Regions from separate parts of the Homo sapiens genome. Here regions 1, 2 and 3 are each linked to region 4. The links come from fine-mapping of genetic effects on gene expression. A gene starts in region 4. Each other region holds a variant in brackets. All regions are shown on one strand. Distances are between the middles of the regions.

Region 1 (5,190 bases), 96 kb before region 4:
TGACTTTAACATAACTTACTAGGTTTTTGGGGGGTACAATAGTTGTATTTGTTAAACTTGTAAATTTATGAGCATTGGAATGATGTCTCCTAAGCTGGACTTGTTGAACTAAGATTTTTTTTTAGCCTTCATCTTCCACCAACCATAAGATTTCAGTGCACAGGTAAAAGGCAATCTTTGACCAAGTTTTATTCTTACTAGAACTGGAAGAATTTGTAAGCTGGTTGTGGTATTACACTTTTTTGGAACAGTCTCCCCCATTTAAATATACCTAACCAATTTAAGATTCTTCCACTAATGGACTTGTATTCAAGACAGCTTTTCAACTTACTACATACCTTTGGACATTCTTTTCTGTTTTTTTGAGACGGAGTTTTGCTCTTTCGCCCAAGCTGGAGTGCAGTGGTGGATCTCAGCTCACTGCAACCTCCACCTTCTGGTTTCAAGTGATTCTCCTGCCTCAGCCTCCTGAGTAGCTGGGATTACAGGTGCCTGCCACCATGCCCAGCTAATTTTTGTATTTTTAGTAGAGATGGGGCGAACTCCTGACCTCGTGATCCGCCCACCTCGGCCTCCCAAAGTGCTGGGATTACAGGTGTGAGCCACTGCGCCCGGCCGTGGACATTCTTTTAATACATTGTCAGCTTTGCTTGATTCGAAGAAGAGAAATTTATAGAGCATATATATATAGACAAGCTGTATTGGCAGTTACTTTTTTACTCTTTCAAAGACTGGTTTTTCAGGAAAGAAAAATTCAACAGTGAATACTTCTATCCAGGACCTTTTCCAGTTTTTCAAAGTATTTATAATTTAAAAATGTTAGGCCGGCCGGGTGCGGTGGCTCACGCTTGTAATCCCAGCACTTTGGGAGGCCGAGGCGGGCGGATCACGAGGTCAGGAGATCAAGACCACGGTGAAACCCTGTCTCTACTAAAAATACAAAAAATTAGCCGGGCCTGGTAGCGAGCGCCTGTAGTCCCAGCTACTCGGAGAGGCTGAGGCAGGAGAATGGCGTGAACCCGGGAGGCGGAGCTTGCAGTGAGCCGAGATCGCACCACTGCACTCCAGCCTGGGTGACAGAGCAAGACTCCGTCTCAAAAAAAAAAAAATTTTAGGCTAGGCACGGTGGCTCGCACCTGTAATCGCAGCACTTTGCAAAGCCAGGGCAGGAGGATCACTTGAGCCCAGGAGTTCGAGACCACCCTGAGCAATGTACAAGACCTGCCCCCCAATCTAAGCTAATTACAAAAAATGTAATTAGCTGGGTGTGGTGGCACATGTGTAATCGCAGCTACTCCAGAAGCCGAGGTGTTAGAATCGCTTGAGCCCAGGAGTTTGAGGTTGCAGTGAGCCATGATCATGCCACTGCACTTCACACTGGGCAACAGAGCAAGACCTTGTCTCAAAAAAACAAAACAAATAAAAAACTCTTTCAGATTATCTTTATTTAATTAAGACATTTAGTATCTAAGTATATACTCAAGTTTTGGGGTTCTTGAGAATTTTTTCAATTAAGAAATATCTGTGATATATTAACAGAAAAGATATTTTAGGTGGAAAAATGGCATTAGAAAGGTTAGGCCAGGTGCAGTGGCTCATGCCTATAATCCCAGCACTTTGGGAGGCTGAGATGGACAGAGTCACATGAAGCCAATTCGAGACCAGCCTGGCCAACATAGCAAAACCCTGTCTCTACTAAAACTACAAAAATTAGCCAGGCATGGTGGTGCACGCCTGTAATCCCAGCTGCTTGGGGGTTCGAGGCACGAGAATTGCCTGAACCTGGGAGGCGGATTTTGTGGTGAGGCAAGATCATGTCGCTGTACTTCAGCCTGGGTGACAGAGCAAGACCCTGTCTCAAAAAAAAAAAGAAAAAAGAAAAAGAAAGAAAGGTTACACACTAGTCGATGACTTCAGAGTCAAGTTTTAACTAGAAAAGAGGCCAGGTGCGGTGGCTCGTGCCT[G/A]TAATCCCAGCACTTTGGGAAGCTGAGGGGGAGTTCACCTGAGGTCAGGAGTTCCAGACCAGCCTGGCCAACATGGCGAAACCCCATCTCCATTGAAAATACAAAAATTAGCTGGGCATGGTAGTGTGCACCTGTAGTCCCAGCTTCTCAGGAGGCTGAGGCAAGAGAATCACTTGAATCCGGGAGGCAGAGGTTATAGTGAGCCGAGATCGTGCCACTGCACTCCAGCCTGGGTGACAGAGCGAGACTCCATCTCAAGAAAAGAAAAAAAAGGTTTTTTTGTTTGTTTGTTTTTCTTGAGATGGAGTTTCACTCTTGTTGCCCAGGCTGAAGTGCAATGGCGCGATCTCGGCTCACTGCAACCTCCGCCTCCTGGGTTCAAGCGATTCTCCTGCCTCAGCCCCCAGAGTAGCTGGAATTACAGGCATGCGCCACCACGCCCGGCTAATTTTTGTAAAGAAAAAAAAGTTTTAACTAGAAAACAATAGGCTGGGTGTGGTGGCTCACACAGTATAATCCCAGCACTTTGGAAGGCCAAGGCGGGCAGATCAGTTGAGGTCAGGAGTTCAAGACCAGCCTGTCCAACTTGGTGAAACCCCGTCTCTACTAAAAATAAAAAAAATTAGCCAGGCGTGGTGGCCTGGCTAGTAGTCCCAGCTGCTCGAGGCAGGAGAATTGCTTGAGTCTGGGAGGTGGAGGTTGCAGTGAGCCAAGATGGCACCACTGCACTCCAGCCTAAGTGACAGAGCAAGACTCCATCTCAAAAATAAAGAAAAAAGTAAACCAGGAAAAAGTATAATTCAAACTTCAATAATGTATAGACTTGCCTTTTAAGGGAAAAAAAGCAAAACAGATTTACAATGTAATAAAATTCACATTGACAGCATTAATGTGTTGTATGATAATGTTTTAGTGACACTGTCCTCAACCTGAATGTAGTAGAAATTGTTACATCTTTGGTTCATTTGAATTTGACATGTTTATTCTCCTGCACACCTTGTGTTACCTCAGCTCTCCCACCACTTTTCTCTATTGCATTTGCTCTCAAACTAGGGAGATTTTGTCACTCTGGAGGCACTTGGCAATGCCTCTGTACATTTTTGGTTGTCCCAACTAAGGGTGTGATACTACTGGCATCTAGTAGGTTGAGGCCAGCAATGCTGGTAACATCTACAATGCACAGAAAAGCTCCTTGAAACAAAGAGGCAAAATGGCAGTTAATAGTGCTGCAGTTGAAAACCCTATTCTATCAGAATTAATTAAAAACTTTCGTATATATATGATATTGTGGTGTCATTTGACCTTAGTACAAACAAATTATTGTCATTTTAAGTCCCAAGTTATGTTGTAAACATTTATAAAGTGCTCATCTAGGTGATCCAGAATATTCACTTATTACTCTTCTTTAGAGTACCATCAAAATAAAAATACAAAATTAAGGGTTACCCATGGAGAACTCATGGACTGCCTGTTCACTAATACAGAATATATATCTGTGATCCCTGGTCTAGGAAAAATCTTTAGCTGGTATGATGAATGAATGCATGTGAGTTTATTTCTTCATCTTAAAAGCTCATCTTACGCATTAAAAAAAAAAAAAACCATGTAGTACAAGTTTGGTTTTGGTTTTGGTTTTTGGTGAAATGTTCTTCATTTGCTTGAAAGGTAGGCTTTTTCACCTTTCTTCATACTGCTGTTCTAATGCAAACAGTAGGATCTCAAAACAGAATGTTATAAATATATAAACAAAAGAAGCACAGCACTAAATTTTTCATAGTTCGTCTCTTCCCTGAACTTGGAATGTCTGAGGAACCCACTGGGTGCAGTGGCTCATGCCTATAATCCCAGCTACTGAGGAGGCTGAGGCAGGAAGATCTGTTGAGGCCAGGAGTTCAAGGCTGCAGTGAGCTATGCTCGTGCCACTGCACCTCAGCCTGGGTGACAGAGCAAGACTCTGTCTCTCTAAAAAAAAAAAAAAAATTACCCTGATGTGGTGACACGCACATGTAGTGTAAGTCCGAGCTACTTGTGAGGCTAAGCCAGGAGGATCGCTTGAGCCCAGGAGTTTGAGGTTGCAATAAGCTGTGATCATGCCACTATACCCTAGCCTGGGTGACAGAGCAAGACCCTGTCTCGGACAACAAAAAAAAATAATTTCTAAGGAATCTTTAATTGACCTTGGTACAACACAGCCACATAACCCCTAACAGGAGGAAGGACATATTTTTCATTCCTCTTTGATGGACATGAACTTAACATACAAATGGACCTACCATTTTTCCAAATTCATGCTCTAAAATCATAAAGACACCCTGTCTTGTCTTCCAGGAAGGCACACAGGATTATTATGAATCTGAGATAATAGGTAAGTACTTTCAACCCTGTATTAGCAATCCCTAGTTTGCATCTTCTATCAGATTTTCACCATTAATATTTTTCAGAGAAATAATGTATTACGTTAGTAGTAAACTATAGTAGAGGCAGGATCCTAAACATACCCTTCTCTTTAATAAGCACAAATAATCTCTCCAAAAGGAGCTATATGGTCACCCTCATTCAAGGTTTGAGTTGTTTTTTTCCTGACAGGATGCGGGGGTGTTATGTGCCTCTTTATATTCACTAGTTTTTCTCAGGTTTTCCAAGATTTTACGAAGAGTTGTTAACACAAAAATATTAAGACCCAGCTTGATCTTCAGAGATACAGAAGCTGATTAAGTATTTTGGCTCTTTTCAGTAGTTTAACCCTAGTTTTCAAGTGATCGATGTTAATACATTTTGAAATCTCTAAGAGTAGGCCTTTCCATTTCTGAAGAAATCCAATATATGATTCCTTTTTACATGAGTTAATTCTGATAACACCTGAATGCTCAATAGACATTAGCACTGACTAGCCGGGCGCGGTGGCTCACGCCTGTAATCCCAGCACTTTGGGAGGCCGAGGCTGGCGGATCACAAGGTCAGGAGATCGAGACCATCCTGGCTAACATGGTGAAAACCCCTCTCTACTAAAAATACAAAAAAGCCGGGCGTGGCAGCACGTGCCTGTAGTCCCAGCTACTGGGGAGGCTGAGGCAGGAGAATTGCCTGAATCCGGGAGGTGGAAGTTGCAGTGAGCCAAGATCATGCCACTGCACTCCAGCCTGGGCGACAGAGCAAGACTCCATCTCAAAAAAAAAAAAAAAAGACATTAGCACTGATCATCTCCTACCTTTGTTGGCTTAGTGTA
Region 2 (5,000 bases), 75 kb after region 4:
CGATAGAGGCCGGGGGTTGTGGCTCACGCCTGTAATCCCAGCACTTTGGGAGACTGAGGCAGGTGGGTCACCCTGTCCAACATGGTGAAACCACGTCTCTACTAAAATTACAAAATCAGCTGGGCGTGGTGTCGCACGCCTATAATCCCAGCTACTTGGGAGGCTGAGGCAGGAGAATTGCTTGAACCCAGGAGGCGGAGGTTGAAGTGAGCTGAGATTGCACCACTGCACTCCAGCCTGGGCAACAGAGTGAGACTCCGCCTCAAAAAAAAAAAAAAAAAAAAAAAAAAGACCCATAGGAATAGCTCCAGGCCAGGCGTGGGATCTCAACACTTTGGGAGGCCAAGGCAGGAGAATCACTTGAGCCCAGGAGTTCAAGACTAGCCTGGGCAACATAGTGAGACCTTGTCTCTACTAAAAATTAAAAAAAAAAAAAATGATCCAGGTGTGGTTGTATGTGCCTGTAGTTCCAGCAACTAGGGACACTGAAGCGGGAGGATCACTTGGGATCAGGAGGTTAAGTCTGTTGTGAGCCGAGATCACACTACTGCACTCTGGCTTGGGTGACAGAGCGAGATCCTGTCTCAAAAAAAAAAACAAAAAAAAAAAAAAAAAAAGAAAAGAAAAGGAAAAAAGAAATGGCTCCATATGGTGCCTGTGTTTTATTCCCAGCCCCAGATAGGGGCCTGACCCCCCACTGGTGCCAGGCCTCGGGCAACCTGGGCTGAGAGTGTGCGGCTCCCCCACAGGCCTGTCCATCCTCATGGAGCCCATCCTGTCCCGCATCCCCCTGGCTGTACTGTTTGGCATCTTCCTCTACATGGGGGTCACGTCGCTCAGCGGCATCCAGCTCTTTGACCGCATCTTGCTTCTGTTCAAGCCACCCAAGTATCACCCAGATGTGCCCTACGTCAAGCGGGTACAGGACCCTTTTCTGGCTGCCCAGCCTGGGGTGGTAGAGGGTGCTGGGGTGTGATAGGCACTGACCCCAGCCTCCGCCTGCAGGTGAAGACCTGGCGCATGCACTTATTCACGGGCATCCAGATCATCTGCCTGGCAGTGCTGTGGGTGGTGAAGTCCACGCCGGCCTCCCTGGCCCTGCCCTTCGTCCTCATCCTCACTGTGCCGCTGCGGCGCGTCCTGCTGCCGCTCATCTTCAGGAACGTGGAGCTTCAGTGTGTGAGTGGCTGCCTGGGCCTGGGGCACAAGAGCTGGGAGCATGCGAGGGGCGCGTCTCAGAACTAGGGCAGGCAGGACAGAGTCATGGGTAAAGTCTGGGGCTAGGGCTGGTGTCCAGGTTCTGGCCTGCTGTGTCCTAGCATATGATCTGGAGCACGGGGCCTTGTTTCTCTGTGTCTTCATTTTGCTCACCTGTAAAGGGGGAAATGATGGCACGACTGGGGAGAGCGTCAAGAGGCAGACAGGGTGTGCTGTGAGTGAGCTGGACCCCTAAGCAGCAAGTCCTGCCGTCTTCCGAGTCATTTGGGACAGAGTCACTCCTCTAATAGGATTCTTCCACAGGGTGACTCAGGTCACTGTGGGGCCGCCTTGGTGAAAAGGTCCCCTGCTCACCCTCTGCAGGCCCTCCCCTGCCAGGGTCCACATCCCCGGGGTTGCCTCTCACTTTGACAACGACTCATTTAGGCCAGTCCTAGCTGCTGGGGAGATAAAACAGGACTGGTCCAAGGTTCAAGACAGCCAGACCCTCTCCTAACTCCAGAGGTGCCTTTCGTGCCCGGGGAGGGCTCTTCTGGCCCCAGGGTCTCTCACCCTGTCTCTCTCCTGTCCCTCCCCTCCAGCTGGATGCTGATGATGCCAAGGCAACCTTTGATGAGGAGGAAGGTCGGGATGAATACGACGAAGTGGCCATGCCTGTGTGAGGGGCGGGCCCAGGCCCTAGACCCTCCCCCACCATTCCACATCCCCACCTTCCAAGGAAAAGCAGAAGTTCATGGGCACCTCATGGACTCCAGGATCCTCCTGGAGCAGCAGCTGAGGCCCCAGGGCTGTGGGTGGGGAAGGAAGGCGTGTCCAGGAGACCTTCCACAAAGGGTAGCCTGGCTTTTCTGGCTGGGGATGGCCGATGGGGCCCACATTAGGGGGTTTGTTGCACAGTCCCTCCTGTTGCCACACTTTCACTGGGGATCCCGTGCTGGAAGACTTAGATCTGAGCCCTCCCTCTTCCCAGCACAGGCAGGGGTAGAAGCAAAGG[C/A]AGGAGGTGGGTGAGCGGGTGGGGTGCTTGCTGTGTGACCTTGGGCAAGTCCCTTGACCTTTCCAGCCTATATTTCCTCTTCTGTAAAATGGGTATATTGATGATAATACCCACATTACAGGATGGTTACTGAGGACCAAAGATACATGTAAAATAGGGCTTTGTAAACTCCACAGGGACTGTTCTATAGCAGTCATCATTTGTCTTTGAACGTACCCAAGGTCACATAGCTGGGATTTGAACTGAGCCGTGCAGCTGGGATTTGAACCAGGCCTTCTGATTTCAAGGTCCGAGCTCTGTCCTCTGTCAGTCATGCGTCCACTTTCCCTTCCCCTGTGACTCCTCCCTTCCCCACTCTGCTCCCAGCCCCTACCTTGAGACCCTCTTCTCTGGGCCCAGAGAGAGGCGTCCTGGTGAGGACAAGGTACAGGCAAGGATGATCCAGGGATTGGGCCTGGGACTCAGGCCTCCTAAGTGTTTGGTTCCTCCCTCCAAACACTCATTAGTTCACTCATTCATTCATTCCACAAACATTTACTGAGGGCCCCGGAATCAGTGGACTCCGAGGGGACTGAGACAAGCCCTGCCCTGGGGTGGGGGTGGGGGGCAAGGTACAGTTGATTCTACATTTGGATAGGGAGTGGGGGAGGGTGGGAAGGTAGGGGCGGGAGAGTGAGGGGGTTTGTAATTTATTAATTGCGTATTTTCTAAGAGTTTTCAACATAGTTTGGCTTCACACACAACTTCAGGCCCCTCATTTGAGAGCCATTATCCTCAACTCCATCTAAACTGAATCTTGGGGAGAACCCAGATCTGACCAATTGGGGTAGGAGACAGCAGGCTCTCCAAGAACATGGGCAAATTTATTTTTTTATAAAACAAAAAGATAAAAAGAGTTGAAAGACGTGAAAGTGGTGAGAGATGGAGGAAACAGAATCAGGAAGTGGTAGAAAAGAGAGGAGGTGGCTGGGCGCAGTGGCTCACGTTTGTAATCCCAGCACTTTGGGAGGCCAAGTTGGGCGGATCATTTGAGGTCAGGAGTTTGAGACCAGCCTGGCCAACATGGTGAAACCCCGTTACTACTAAAAATACAAAAATTAGCTGGGTGTCTCGTGGCAGGCACCTGTAATCCCAGCTACTTAGAAGGCTGAGGCAAGAGAATCACCTGAACCCAGGAGGTGGAGGTTGCAGTGAGCCAAGATTGCACCACTGCACTCCAGCCTGGGCAACAGAGCGAGACCCTGTCTCAAAAAAAAAAAAAAAAAAAAAAAAAAAACGGAAGGAAACATCAGCCTTGGGGGCCACAGACTCAACATGTGTGTGTGGTGGGGTTCCAGCCCAACATAGAGTAACATTATTTGTACCTCCCAGGCTAGCTCAGTCCATGGGAGGCTCTCCTGTCCCTGAAAGCTGACACCCACCTTTCACCACTTCGCCCATGCTACAGTTCAGTTTCCTCGTCTGTAAAATGGGGATGATAATGGTACCTACCTTGCAGTGTTGTTATAAGGATTAAAGGAGACAGTGCAAGAAAAGGCCTTGGTTGGTGAAGAGCCCAACCTCGGAGGGGAGCTGCTGGGATCCTCCTTATCTTGACTGGGATGTCCCTGTCTCCCCCTCCCCTTGCTCCTTGAACATGGCCAAGGAAAGTGAAAAACAAAAATTATTCACTCTGCTAGCACCCTTCCCCTTGATGCCTGGGAATAGGTTTTGCCAATAAACGTATCTGTGTTGGAGTGGCTGCCTTGCCTGAATTCCCGTTCCCAGAGTCGGGGGTCCCGGGGGTCTTGGCTGAACTAGGTGGGCATGGTGTGTGTGGCACGGGCCTGGCACAGGGCTGCATCTATGCAGCAAGGGGAGCCAGGCTGAGGTGTGACCCTGAGCCCTAGGGTGGGAGGCCAGCACCCAGAGAGTGGGTAGGGAGCAAGAGATGAGATTATGCTCTGAGACTCCTTCCTCTCCTGAATAAGCAAGACCTGTGGGGGTGGGAGGAGGGACTGTAAGGGGACCTTGCCCCCTGCTCCTTATACTTGTGAGCCCCCAATTCCCTTTAGATCAGTGGACCCCTTACCGGGAAGCTGGACAGCACCTTTGACAGAGATGACCAGAGAAGAAAACAGAGGCCCAGAGAGGGCACATGGCCACACAGGCACAGCGTCTCCTGGCCAGCTTTCTGCTTACCCTCATCCTGGTCCCCTTTGGAGGCTCTGTCCCCTACCCCCAACCACTTCCAGCAATTCTAGGGTGTTGCTGGGCTAGGTGTCCCCCACCCCGGGAGAGGAGGGTTCCAGGACTGGACATCTGCCCTCCCTAGACTTCCAACGAGAGGTCAGTGCAGGGCTGGGCCGCCTGGCTTCCTGCCCTAGATCTATATTTACTGCCTATCCCCAGCTGACCCCTCCCAGGCTAGCCAGGGCAGCTGCCAAAGGGTCAGAGAGCTAACTCTGCCAGGGGAGAGCCGTCCCAGCGTCCACCTCCCACACACAGCAGCTGCAGATCCCCACAGCCCTGGCCCTGTCCCCAGGGCTTGCCAGACCCTCCATTCCCCACGTCCATGTACCCAGAAGTCAGGCTATGAGACAAGCCTGAAGAGAGCTCAGGCCACCGGCATCCCCAGGCCTCTTCCACAGGCTGGCTGTGCAACCTGGGAAAAGCCAGTCCCCTCTCTGGGTCTCCGTTTTCTACTGGGCTAATTCTTCCTGGTAGATCCTTTCCATCGCCTGGAAAAGGATCCTTTCCATCCTTTTCCAGCTCATCATATCTGGACTTAGGGGAATAAATGCTGCCT
Region 3 (5,190 bases), 590 kb before region 4:
GGTTAACTAATTTGCTCAAAGTCACACAGCTCCTAAGTGGTAGAGTTGGATTTCCAACTCTAGCACATCTCACTTGGGAGCCTGCATTCCATGCCTCTGCCAGTCTGTTTTGGGTTACTGAGCCTCTACCATATGCCAGGCACCCCCCAGGACACAGAGAGGTGTCTGACCTGGAAGGTGTGATATTGACGTGCACCCAAACATAGTGCCCGTAGAGAACACCACAGCTCAGAGCTTATATGTAGTGTGGGAGCCAGGAAAGACACTGTAGAGGGGGCATTTGGGCTAGGCAGGACAGGCACGCTGTGGACAGGAAGAGAAGAAGGGAGGGCCATTCCTAGTGGAGGACAGAGCCTGGAGGCAGAAAAGCACAGAGAGGCAGGGCCCCAAGATGCTAGCCTAGCCAGGGCACCTAGCTGAGGAGTGTGAGTGGCAGAAGCCACTGGTGTCTGAGCAGGGTGAGGGCCCGATGGGGCTGGGAGGACCTCCCTGCAGGCAGGGGAGAAAGGGCTATTAGAACCCAGGGTGAGGCCAGGCGAGGTGGCTCACACCTGTAATCCCAGCACTTTGGGAGGCCGAGGCATGCGGATCACCTGAGGTCAGCAGTTCAAGACTAGCCTGGTCAACATGGTGAAACCCCGTCTCTACTAAAAATACAAAATCAGCCGGGTGTAGTGGCGCATGCCTGTAATCCCAGCTACTCAGGTGGCTGGGGCAGGAGAATTGCTTGAACCTGGGAGGCAGAGGTTGCAGTGACCCGGGATTGTGCCACTGACTTCCAACCTGGGCGACAAGAGCAAGACTCTGTCTCAAAATAAAACAAAAAAAACAAAAAAACAAAAACACACAAAACACCCAGGCCTCCGCTCGCCTAAGACGACAGCGTTCAGTCCCGCAGATGCAGCTGTCAGTGTGGAAGGTTCTGGATTCTGTGGCACTGTTCATTCATTCGCTTGCTGACCAGGTGTTGTGCTAGGTGCTGAGGTCTGGCAGCCCGCTACCCTGCCCGCATCCATGGGTCACAGTTGTTGGGAAAAGTCCCAGCCAGGGCCAACGTCCTGGGGTTAACTGGGGTGCTGCTCACCTCCCTGATTTCCCAGAGCCCGTGCCTGCCCATGGGCCCACACAGCCCCCCATATGTGTCCCCCACCTAGTTTGCAGACCTGACAGACGCTGCTGCCCGCAACGCGGAGCTGCTCCGCCAGGCCAAGCACGAAGCCAACGACTACCGGCGCCAGTTGCAGTCCTTGACCTGCGACCTGGAGTCTCTGCGCGGCACGGTGAGCGCGGCCAGGGCAGGACGGGGACGGGCGGAGCAGGGACGGCCACCCCAGGAGATGCCAGGGGAGAAGGGCCAGGGACGAGGACCTGGGTCGAGGGCGGGGCCTGAACGTTACCCCCGGGCTAGAGGCGGGGCCTGGGGCCGGGGGCCGGGCCTCGAAACCTCCCCAAGTCGGGTCGGGGCTCCGCGGGACCGGCCGGCTCCATCCCACAGAACGAGTCCCTGGAGAGGCAGATGCGCGAGCAGGAGGAGCGGCACGTGCGGGAGGCGGCCAGTTATCAGGAGGCGCTGGCGCGGCTGGAGGAAGAGGGGCAGAGCCTCAAGGACGAGATGGCCCGCCACTTGCAGGAGTACCAGGACCTGCTCAATGTCAAGCTGGCCCTGGACATCGAGATCGCCACCTACAGGAAGCTGCTAGAGGGCGAGGAGAACCGGTGAGCCCTCATCACAGCCCCTGGGGAAGTCTCCCTGCTGCCTCACGGTAGAGCTCATCTTGCTCCCTTCAGGGACTGAGTCTTTTTCAGCCTTGTGTGCAGATCCCTTCCCACCTCAATGCCCAGCACAGTGCCTGCCTCACACATAGCAGGCAGTCACTAGATGTTTGATGACTGAATGGATGGATGGATTCAACCAATATTGATTAGGCCTCAAGGCCAAGGACTTGGGTCACCCTCCAAACTAAGAGGCATACTCCCCATCTTCCCAGCCAAGATTGGACTCCTCACCTCACCCATCTCTTCTGCCTCCTTGGAACTTTCTTCACCACTTTCCCCTCCCTTTTCCATCTTCCTTCAGATAGACATGCGCCCCTCCCAGATAACACTCAAGCCCCTTGCAGACGTTTGGAACTCCAGATAGCACGTTGGCTGCTGGGGAAAAAGCTAGGAGATGGAGTTAGACTTTCCTGGCAAGGAAAAGGGCGTTCAAGTTGTCATGATGGCCCCGCACCAAGACCCAGCCTAGGGGTGTCCCAGGCAGCCCGGGCAGCCCTCTCCCTCTGCTTTCTTTCAGGATCACCATTCCCGTGCAGACCTTCTCCAACCTGCAGATTCGAGGTCAGTACAGCAGGGCCTCGTGGGAAGGGCACTGGAGTCCTGCCCCCTCCTCCAGGGCCTGTAGGTTGCTCCAGACTGGGACTGAGGATCAGGGCAAAGGGATCCAGCTCTCCCTGGGGGCCTTCGTGACACTGCAGCGCTCCTAGCCAGAGCCTATCATACCAGGGTACTTCTAGGTGGGGCTTGCAGCTGCCCCTGTCCTGCTAGGCCCTGGTCCCTCTTCCCCTCCCTGCACCCCATTCGACAGCAGAACTGGGTGAGAGCTTGACATCTGCCCTGTCTGCAGATCCCTGAGCAAGCACTGCCCTTCTGAGTGTTTTCTGTTTTTGTTTTTTTAACTGCTTGTCACTACAGGGGGCAAAAGCACCAAAGACGGGGAAAATCACAAGGTCACAAGATATCTCAAAAGCCTCACAATACGAGTTATACCAATACAGGCTCACCAGATTGTAAATGGAACGCCGCCGGCT[C/T]GCGGTTAGCTGCCTGCCTCTCAGACACGGCGCTTTGCCCAGCTTGACAGGGAGTGAGCCTCACCCACCCCATCCTCCCAATCCCCCTGAGTTCCCTCTTCCCAGGCTTCCCCTAAAGGGCCTGGACTGCGTCATTTTCCCAGGAACTGCAGTGCCCAGCCCAGGACGTGGTACAGAGTAACTGTACATTAAACTGGCAGAGCTTGTTAGTGGTAAAGGTGGTGAGTCCTTGGGTGCGCAGTGGAGCTGCTCTGGGGCCTCTGAGCAAGCAGCAGCCTCTGTCTCACCTCTTCCTGTCACTGGGAGGGCCCCTTGGGTCTCGCTGTGCCTGGACGCCAGGCTCTCTGCTTTATTCTTTCATCCCTGAGGCTCCATCGCTCAGCTCAGTGCTGACTCAGTTCAGAGGATTCTTCCCTCAGGACCGCAGCTCTTGCAGTGAATAAAGTTTTATGTTCCCTGCTCTTAATGTTAAATATTAGTGAATGTGACGTGTTATATTTTTCTCTCTCGGGCGGGGCGGGGGGAGGGGGGAGCTAAATTACTTTTTACTTGCATTGGCCCTGAAATGATTCTTAGCTAAGGAACAAAATTCCTCTTCTTCTGGACTAGAATATTTAGGACCACTAGATATGCATGTCTCAGGACTTAATTCAGCATCAGAAAGGCTAACCAGGCTGACTAGTAGAGGTAATACTGCCAAATCCTAGATAGTCACAGGTCACTAAAGCACAGATAAATGGCAGAGAGAAGTAGGAAAGAGGAAAGGGGACAGGAAAGGGACCTATGTGTATTGAGCACTAATATGTGCCACATGTTTAACAGCCTTTATTTTAGTTAATTGTCTCCTCTCTCCCACCTAGAGAAGTAGGCCCCATCATCCTTATTTTACAGATGAGGAAACTGAGGCTGGGAGAGGTCAATTAACTTGCCCAGAGTCATGTGGCTGGTTGGTGGCTAAGTTGGGACTTCTTGAGCTCTGGTCTCCTGATCCTTCCTTCCTTCCTTCCTTCTTTTCTTCCTTCCTTCCTTCTTTCCTTCCTTCCTTCGGCAGAGCGTCCCTCTGTCACTCAGGCTGGAATGCAGTAGTGCAATCTTGGCTCACTGCAACCTCCACCTCCCAGGTTCAAGCAATTCTCGTGCCTCAGACTCCCGAGTAAGGGGATTACAGGTGCGAGCCACCACACCTGGCTAATCTTTCTTTTTCTTTCTTTCTTTCTTTCTTCCTTCCTTCCTTCCTTCCTTCCTTTCTCTTTCCTGCTTGCTTGCTTGCTTGCTTGCCTGCTTTCGACGGAGTCTTACTCTGTTGCTCAGGCTGGAGTGCAGTGGCACGATCGCAGCTTACTGCAACCTCCGCCTCCCAGGTTCAAGTGATTCTCCTCTCTCAGCCTCCTGAGTAGCTGGGACTACAGGCACCTGTCACCATGCCTGACTAATTTTTGTATTTTTAGTAGAGACAGGGTTTCACCATATTAGTCAGGCTGGTCTCAAACTCCTGACCTCAGGCGATCCACCTGCCTCGGCCTCCCAAAGTGCTGGGATTACAGGTGTGAGCCACCATGCCTGGCCTATTTTTTGTATTTTTAGTAGAGGTTTCACTATGTTGGCCAGGCTGGTCTCGAACTCCTGGCGTCAGGTGATCCACCTGCCTCAGCCTCCCAAAATGATGGCATTATAGGTGTGAGCCACCGCACCCCTCCTGGTCTCCTGATTTCAATACCGTGCTGGGTTTTCAGAAAGCCAGGTGCCAGGCCAGGGCTTGCAGAGGGGCTGAAATGAAGCCAGGCCAGAAGACAGAGCAGCCAGGACTCTGGCAGCAGCACTATTGGGATTTGGGGGCTCTCCAGCCCGTTTGGAAGAGCCTAGGCTCTCTCTGCTCGGTTGCATAGGTTCTCATACTCATGATGGGGAGGGGGGTGCGATGGGGAAGCCGGGCATGGGAGAGGATGGCTCATGCCCTGAAAGTCCATGAGAGGCCTCCTCTCCCCACATCTGCAGAAACCAGCCTGGACACCAAGTCTGTGTCAGAAGGCCACCTCAAGAGGAACATCGTGGTGAAGACCGTGGAGATGCGGGATGGAGAGGTAAGGAGGGATTTGGGCCCAGTCAGGCTCTGGCTGGCCCCAGGGATTCTCAAGGCCAGGCCATGGAGGAAAGCCTGGGGCTGGCACATAGAAGGTTCCCAGCAACTCCCAGTAGCTCCCCAGGGAATTCTGGAGGAGAGCAAGGAAACTGAATGTAATTCCGTTTCCTCAGTCCCTCCATAGGCTGTTCTAAGGGGAGCCTTGGTACCAAAGCCACTAGATGGGATCCTAATACACACTCTCTCTTTCTCACCCTCAAACTCGGGGGCCTTGCTTGCCAGGGAGAGAAAGAGAATTAAAGT
Region 4 (5,190 bases):
CCTTTTGCCCAGCGCCCCTTTACAGGTCACAGATTGCACTCTCCCTGCTCCCAAGCTGGAGTTTCAGAGCTGTGGGGGAGCTCAAAGGCATTTTGTCAGGGAAAGCTGATAGTTGGCCCCTCGGAGTCCACGTGCTAACCCGGCAGGCGCCGGCTGACTGGGCTCCTCCAGCGCCGGACGCGACCAGTGGGGGCCTGAAGGGCGGGGAAGGCAGAGACGTCAAAGTCGAGGCCTACCCTTCTTAAAGGCGCAGGCTAGGAGTACCCATCTCCCCGCCCGCCCCCCCCCGCCTCCACCCGCCCGCCCGCCCCCCTCCGCCACCGCCCGCGCGTGCTGGTTTCTCTGTTAGGACAAATAAGCAAGATAGCACAGAAGTTCTAAACGCGAAGTGGGTGGTGGGGCCTGGGGTACGGGGCTGCCCCGGGAAATAAAGTGTCTCCCTGACAAGCGGGATCGGAGAGGGCAGCGCTGGACTTAAGCCTTCCTGTCTCCCGGGGAGGCAGTGTGGAGCCCTGGGAAAAGCACCCGGCCGGTTCGAATCTCCGGCTCTTCACGTCGAGCCTCAGTTTCACTTTCTGTAAAACGGGGTAATCTATTTCTTTTTCAGACGGAGTTTCGCTCTTGTTGCCCAGGCTGGAGTGCAATGGCGCAGTCTCGGCTCACCGCAACCTCCGCCTTCCGGGTTTAAGCGATTCTCCTGCCTCAGCCTCTCGAGTGGCTGGGATTACTGGCATGCGCCACCACGCCCGGCTAATTTTTTGTATTTTTAGTAGAGACGAGGTTTCACCATGTTGGTCAGGCTGCTCTCGAACTCCTGACCTCTGGTGATCCGCCCGCCTCGGCCTCCAAAAAGGCTGGGATTACAGGCGTAAGCCACTGCGCCCGGCCTTTTTTTTTGAGACGGAGTGTTACTCTGTTGCCCAGGCTGGAATGCAGTGGTGCGATCTCGGCTCACTGCAACCTCCGCCGGCCGGGTTCAAGCGATTCTCCTGCCTCAGCCTCCCGAGTAGCTGGGATTACAGGCGCCAGCCATCATGCCCGGCTACTTTTGTATTTTTAGTAGAGACGGGGTTTCACCATGTTGGCCAGGCTGGTCTCGAACTCCTGACTTCAAGTGATCCGCCCGCCTCGGCCTCCTAAAGTGCTGGATTACAGGCGTGAGCCACCGCGCCCGGCCTGTGGTAATCTATTTCAACAATAACCTACTGCAAAGAGTTTTGAGACTCAGAAGAAATCACGATACGAGAGCAACCAACACCAAAACGTCGATGCCCTCCCGCACTCAGTGCTCTTCCTCTCCGCGCAGAGTCATTCCGGGCCTTAGGCGAGGTTGTGATTTGCCCAAGGTCACGCGAAGGTGGGATCTGGCTCCCCATGGCTCTCCCGTCTCCCCCGGCTTGCTCACGTCCCAGCCCGCCCGGCCCGGGCTGCAGCTCAGCTAACCCAGTGGCGCACACCCGCGCGGGGCCCTGTGGTTTACAAAGCGTTTTGCAGTTGCAGGCCTGTCCTGTAACCTGAAAAATGGGGGCGATGCTAAGGCCGGCGAGAGAAGTCGCCGCGAAGTTTTCAAGTCTCGGCGGGTAGCCCGGCAAGTAACTTCGTCGTTATTGTGTGGTCTCCCGGCGATCTCGAAGAACTCATTCTCACTGCCGCCGCCACGCACCTGAGGACACCGAGGAAGAGGGCCAGTGCGTCACCCTCGCCGTCCAGAAGGCGCTGGGGTTTCCAGTGCCGCGCGCGGCCGGGGCGGGGCTGGTGAAAATGCGCTGTTAAGGCCGGCGCGGCGGCTCACGCCTGGAATCCCAGCACTTTCGAAGACCGAGGTGGGCGGATCGCTTGAGCCCAGGAGTTCCAGACTAGCCTGGGCAAAATAGGGAGACAAAAATAAAAGTAACAAACCAGCCGGGCGTGGCGGCGCGCGCCTGTGGTCCCAGCTACTCCGGAGGCTGAGGCAGGAGGATCGCTTGAACCCGGGAGGTCAAGGCTGCAGTGAGCCTAGATCGCGCCACTGCCCTCCAGCCTCGGCGACAGAGCGAGGCTGAAAAAGATGCTGTCTAAAAAAAGATGCTGGAAGTGCGTGCTGCTGCCACGTTAAGCGCGACGTGGAGACCGCGAAGTTGGCCGGCAGCTCTCAGCGCTGGACAGGCATGGAACTCGCCCGCGCGGCCCCGTCAAGGGGGCGGGACCGTCGCAGGTCCGGGCGGAGACGCGAGTGGGCGGAGCCGGGGACACTCCGGGCTTGCGGCTGGTCGGCCCGCGGCGGGCGGGGCCTCGTGGCGCGGTGTAGGGGCGGGGCCCCCTTGGCTGCTTTCGGCGTCGGCCTAGGTGCGCTGCGAGCGCGCGCGGACCGCGCACAGGCGGCGGAGCCGGTATGGGCCCGCCTGACCCTGGGCGCCGCGCCGCACGAGCACCAGCCTAGAGCCAGGTAGGCGGCACTGGGCCGGGGCTGGGGGCGGAGACGGAAGCGGGGGTCTCCGGGCGGCCGTGCGAGCCAGGGCAGGTGCTGGGGCCGTCGAGCTGGCGTGGTCCCCCTCACCTGGCGGCTCTCCGCCGTTCGGGGCCGGGAGTGTCGCCGAGGGTCGGGGAGACGTCCTGGTCCTACGTTCCTACTTCCCGCTCTCCCGGCTGCGCCCCGGGCCTGCATTTTGGGGCGGGAACCCAGAGACTGCTCTTTCTCTCCGGGCCCCGGGTCTGGCCCGTCCGGCCGGGCGGGGAGGGCCGGGCATCCCAGCCCGCAGTCCTGAGGAGGCGACGGGCCCTTCTTGGTCACCGGATCTGTTTACACGTCACCCTCGATGCCCGGCCGTCCCTCCACGCCCAGTAACTTGGGCTCTCAGGTGCCTGCCCGGGGCCTTGGTGCTGGAGTGGGGGCTGTGGGGGCAGCACAGGTACTCTGATTTTGGGGCCACGAGGGCCAAATCCGCGCCTGCACGTAGGAGGTGCGCAGTGGACACGTGCGAGGTGGACGAGGGAAGGACCCTGGCTCCTACTGCATTCGAGCGATAGGTCTGGCACCCTAGCTTCCTTCGGAACCACTCCTGAGTGACCTTGGGCAGGCCACCTCGTCTCCCCGAGCCTTAGTTTTCCCCGGCGGAGGGGGGCGGACAGTCCCTGCTTTAGAGGTCATTGCCAGGGTTGTTGAGGCAACAGATGTTTCGAGGGCGGTGGATGAGGGTTGGGTTAAAGTCTCACAGTGGGCCGGGTGCGGTGGCTCACGCCTGTAATCCCAGTGCTTTGGGAGGCTGAGGCGGGCGGATCACGAGGTCAGGAGATCGAGATCATCTTGGCCAACATGGTGAAACCCTGTCTCTACTAAAAATGCAAAAATTAACTAGGCGTGGTGGTGCGCGCCTGTAGTCCCAGCTACTTGGGAGGCTGAAGCAAGAGAACCGCTTGAACGGGGGTGGATGTTGCAGTGAGCCAAGATGGTGCCACTGCACTCCAGCCTGGCAACAGTGCGCAGAGCGAGACGCCGTCTCAAAACAAAAGTCTCACAGTGGCCCAGCCTCCTTTCCTGCCATCCCTGGAGTTGTGGTCTGTTTGAGGTTTGGTTTTCAGGACTGAAGCTTCAAGATGGCTGACCAGGACCCTGCGGGCATCAGCCCCCTCCAGCAAATGGTGGCCTCAGGCACCGGGGCTGTGGTTACCTCTCTCTTCAGTAAGACCTAGGGGAGGTGGGGTGGGGGCGGGTGGGGATGGGGCAGACCGGAGATTGGAGGCTGTGTGGTCCTGGGGGAGGAGTCCTAGGGGTGGGGTCCTGAAAGGAGCCTTCAGACCCGCTTCCTCCCCCAGTGACACCCCTGGACGTGGTGAAGGTTCGCCTGCAGTCTCAGCGGCCCTCCATGGCCAGCGGTGAGTACCTGACCTGGAACTAGTGAGGGGTGGTGCCTGGGCAAAAGAAAGATCTCCCAGAGGCTGGCCGTGGTTTCTCATACCTGTAATCCCAGCGCTTTGGGAGGCTGAGGTGGGTGGATCACCTGAGATCAGGAGTTCAAGGCCAGCCTGGCCAACGTGGTGAAACTCTCTCACTACTAAAACTACAAAAATTAGCCGGGCTTGGTGGCATGCGCCTGTAGTCCCAGCTACCTGGGAGGCTGAGGCAGGAGAATCGCTTGAACCGGGAAGGTGGAGGTTGCAGTGAGCTGAGATTGTGCCACTATGCTCCAGGGTGGGCGACAGAGCAAGACTCCATCTCAAAAAATAAAATAAAAAGATCTCCCAGAGATGGGGTCCCTAGGGCGGGTGGGGGCTCTCCTGACTTGAGGGGCTGCCTTGTATTTTAGAGCTGATGCCTTCCTCCAGACTGTGGAGCCTCTCCTATACCAAATGTGAGTGCCCCAAGCCACAGGGAGCATGGGAGGGTGCAAGGGGGAGACAGTCCTTGTCCCTGTCCCCAGGGCACCAGTGGGCTCCACAGCCATGGACTAGCATATACTCCCAGGTCCTGCCAGCCAGTCCTGTGACCTGCACCAGAACATCCACACAGGGACCTGGCCTTTACTGGCCTTCCAGGGATAGGGGCCCACTGCCTCCCTGCAAGGTTCTAGGATCCTGTCATTATAATGCCCCCTGCCTTTCCCCAGTGCCCTCCTCTCTCCAATCCACAGGGAAGTGCCTCCTGTATTGCAATGGTGTCCTGGAGCCTCTGTACCTGTGCCCAAATGGTGCCCGCTGTGCCACCTGGTTTCAAGACCCTACCCGCTTCACTGGCACCATGGTGAGGAGCAGCTGGGTCCGTAGGGATTCGTCGGTGTCCGTGAGGAGTTCGGTCTGGCTGGGCAGCAGACCCAGGAGTAAAGGGATTGGGCAAGGCACGCAGAGGTAGCCGGTTCCGTCAGGAAGTGCTTCCGGAGAAGGCAGTACCTCCATGGGGTGTTTGTTTTCTTTTAGACAGAGTCTCGCTCTGTCACCCAGGCTGGAGTGCGGTGGTGTGATCTCAGCTCACTGCAACCTCTGTCTCCTGGGTTCAAGTGGTTCTCCTGTCTCAGCCTCCGAAGTAGCTGGGATTACAAGCGTGCACCACCACCTGCCGCTAATTTTTGTATTTTTAGTAGAGACAGGGTTTTGCCGTGTTGGCCAGGCTGGTCTCGAACTCCTGCCTCAAGTGATTTATCCGCCTTGGCCTCCCAAAGTGCTGGCTGGGATTACATATGTGAGCCACCGTGCCTGGCCTCCATAAGGTTTTTGAAG

Direction of the effects. Alleles are on the strand shown, and positions count from the first base shown. SD is a standard deviation of normalised expression in the study named. Not every link is listed here.
For the expression in B cells of the gene that starts at base 2,313 in region 4, allele C in region 2 goes with a lower level than allele A (small effect, 0.40 SD a copy in Fairfax 2012).

What was found. PIP is the estimated chance that this variant, and not a neighbour inherited with it, causes the effect.
Region 1: its variant is the best candidate, but not a certain one, in a credible set for the expression of SLC25A39 in lung (GTEx, PIP 0.85).
Region 2: its variant is the best candidate, but not a certain one, in a credible set for the expression of SLC25A39 in B cells (Fairfax 2012, PIP 0.70).
Region 3: its variant is the best candidate, but not a certain one, in a credible set for the expression of SLC25A39 in gastroesophageal junction (GTEx, PIP 0.81).

What each region holds. Positions count from the first base shown.
Region 1 is chr17:44,418,414-44,423,603 of GRCh38, reverse strand. The region is part of intron 6 of GPATCH8 (G-patch domain containing 8); the gene reads left to right. Among named protein-coding and RNA genes, the nearest start is that of ITGA2B, 31 kb to the right of the region's middle. RefSeq lists an enhancer at 1,448-2,421. The variant G/A (reference allele first, on the strand shown) is at 1,965.
Region 2 is chr17:44,247,338-44,252,337 of GRCh38, reverse strand. SLC4A1 (solute carrier family 4 member 1 (Diego blood group)) reads left to right here. Exons shown (of 20, transcript NM_000342.4): 18 at 750-919; 19 at 1,006-1,179; 20 at 1,800-3,948. The coding sequence ends at 1,880. Among named protein-coding and RNA genes, the nearest start is that of SLC4A1, 18 kb to the left of the region's middle. The variant C/A (reference allele first, on the strand shown) is at 2,213.
Region 3 is chr17:44,907,762-44,912,951 of GRCh38, reverse strand. It overlaps GFAP (glial fibrillary acidic protein), which reads left to right. Exons shown (of 9, transcript NM_002055.5): 5 at 1,155-1,280; 6 at 1,496-1,716; 7 at 2,294-2,337; 8 at 4,803-4,888. Among named protein-coding and RNA genes, the nearest start is that of GFAP, 5.1 kb to the left of the region's middle. RefSeq lists a silencer at 1,377-1,446 and an enhancer at 1,657-1,766. The variant C/T (reference allele first, on the strand shown) is at 2,808.
Region 4 is chr17:44,321,946-44,327,135 of GRCh38, reverse strand. It overlaps SLC25A39 (solute carrier family 25 member 39), which reads left to right and starts at 2,313. Exons shown (of 12, transcript NM_001143780.3): 1 at 2,313-2,425; 2 at 3,559-3,658; 3 at 3,793-3,852; 4 at 4,284-4,328; 5 at 4,584-4,717. The coding sequence starts at 3,574. It overlaps LOC124904009 (a long non-coding RNA gene), which reads right to left and starts at 1,683. Exons shown (of 2, transcript XR_007065768.1): 1 at 1,515-1,683; 2 at 1-194. RefSeq lists enhancers at 441-540, 1,231-1,280, 539-1,390, 1,461-1,520, 1,571-1,650 and 1 more, a cis regulatory region at 1-566 and silencers at 2,101-2,530, 2,551-2,770.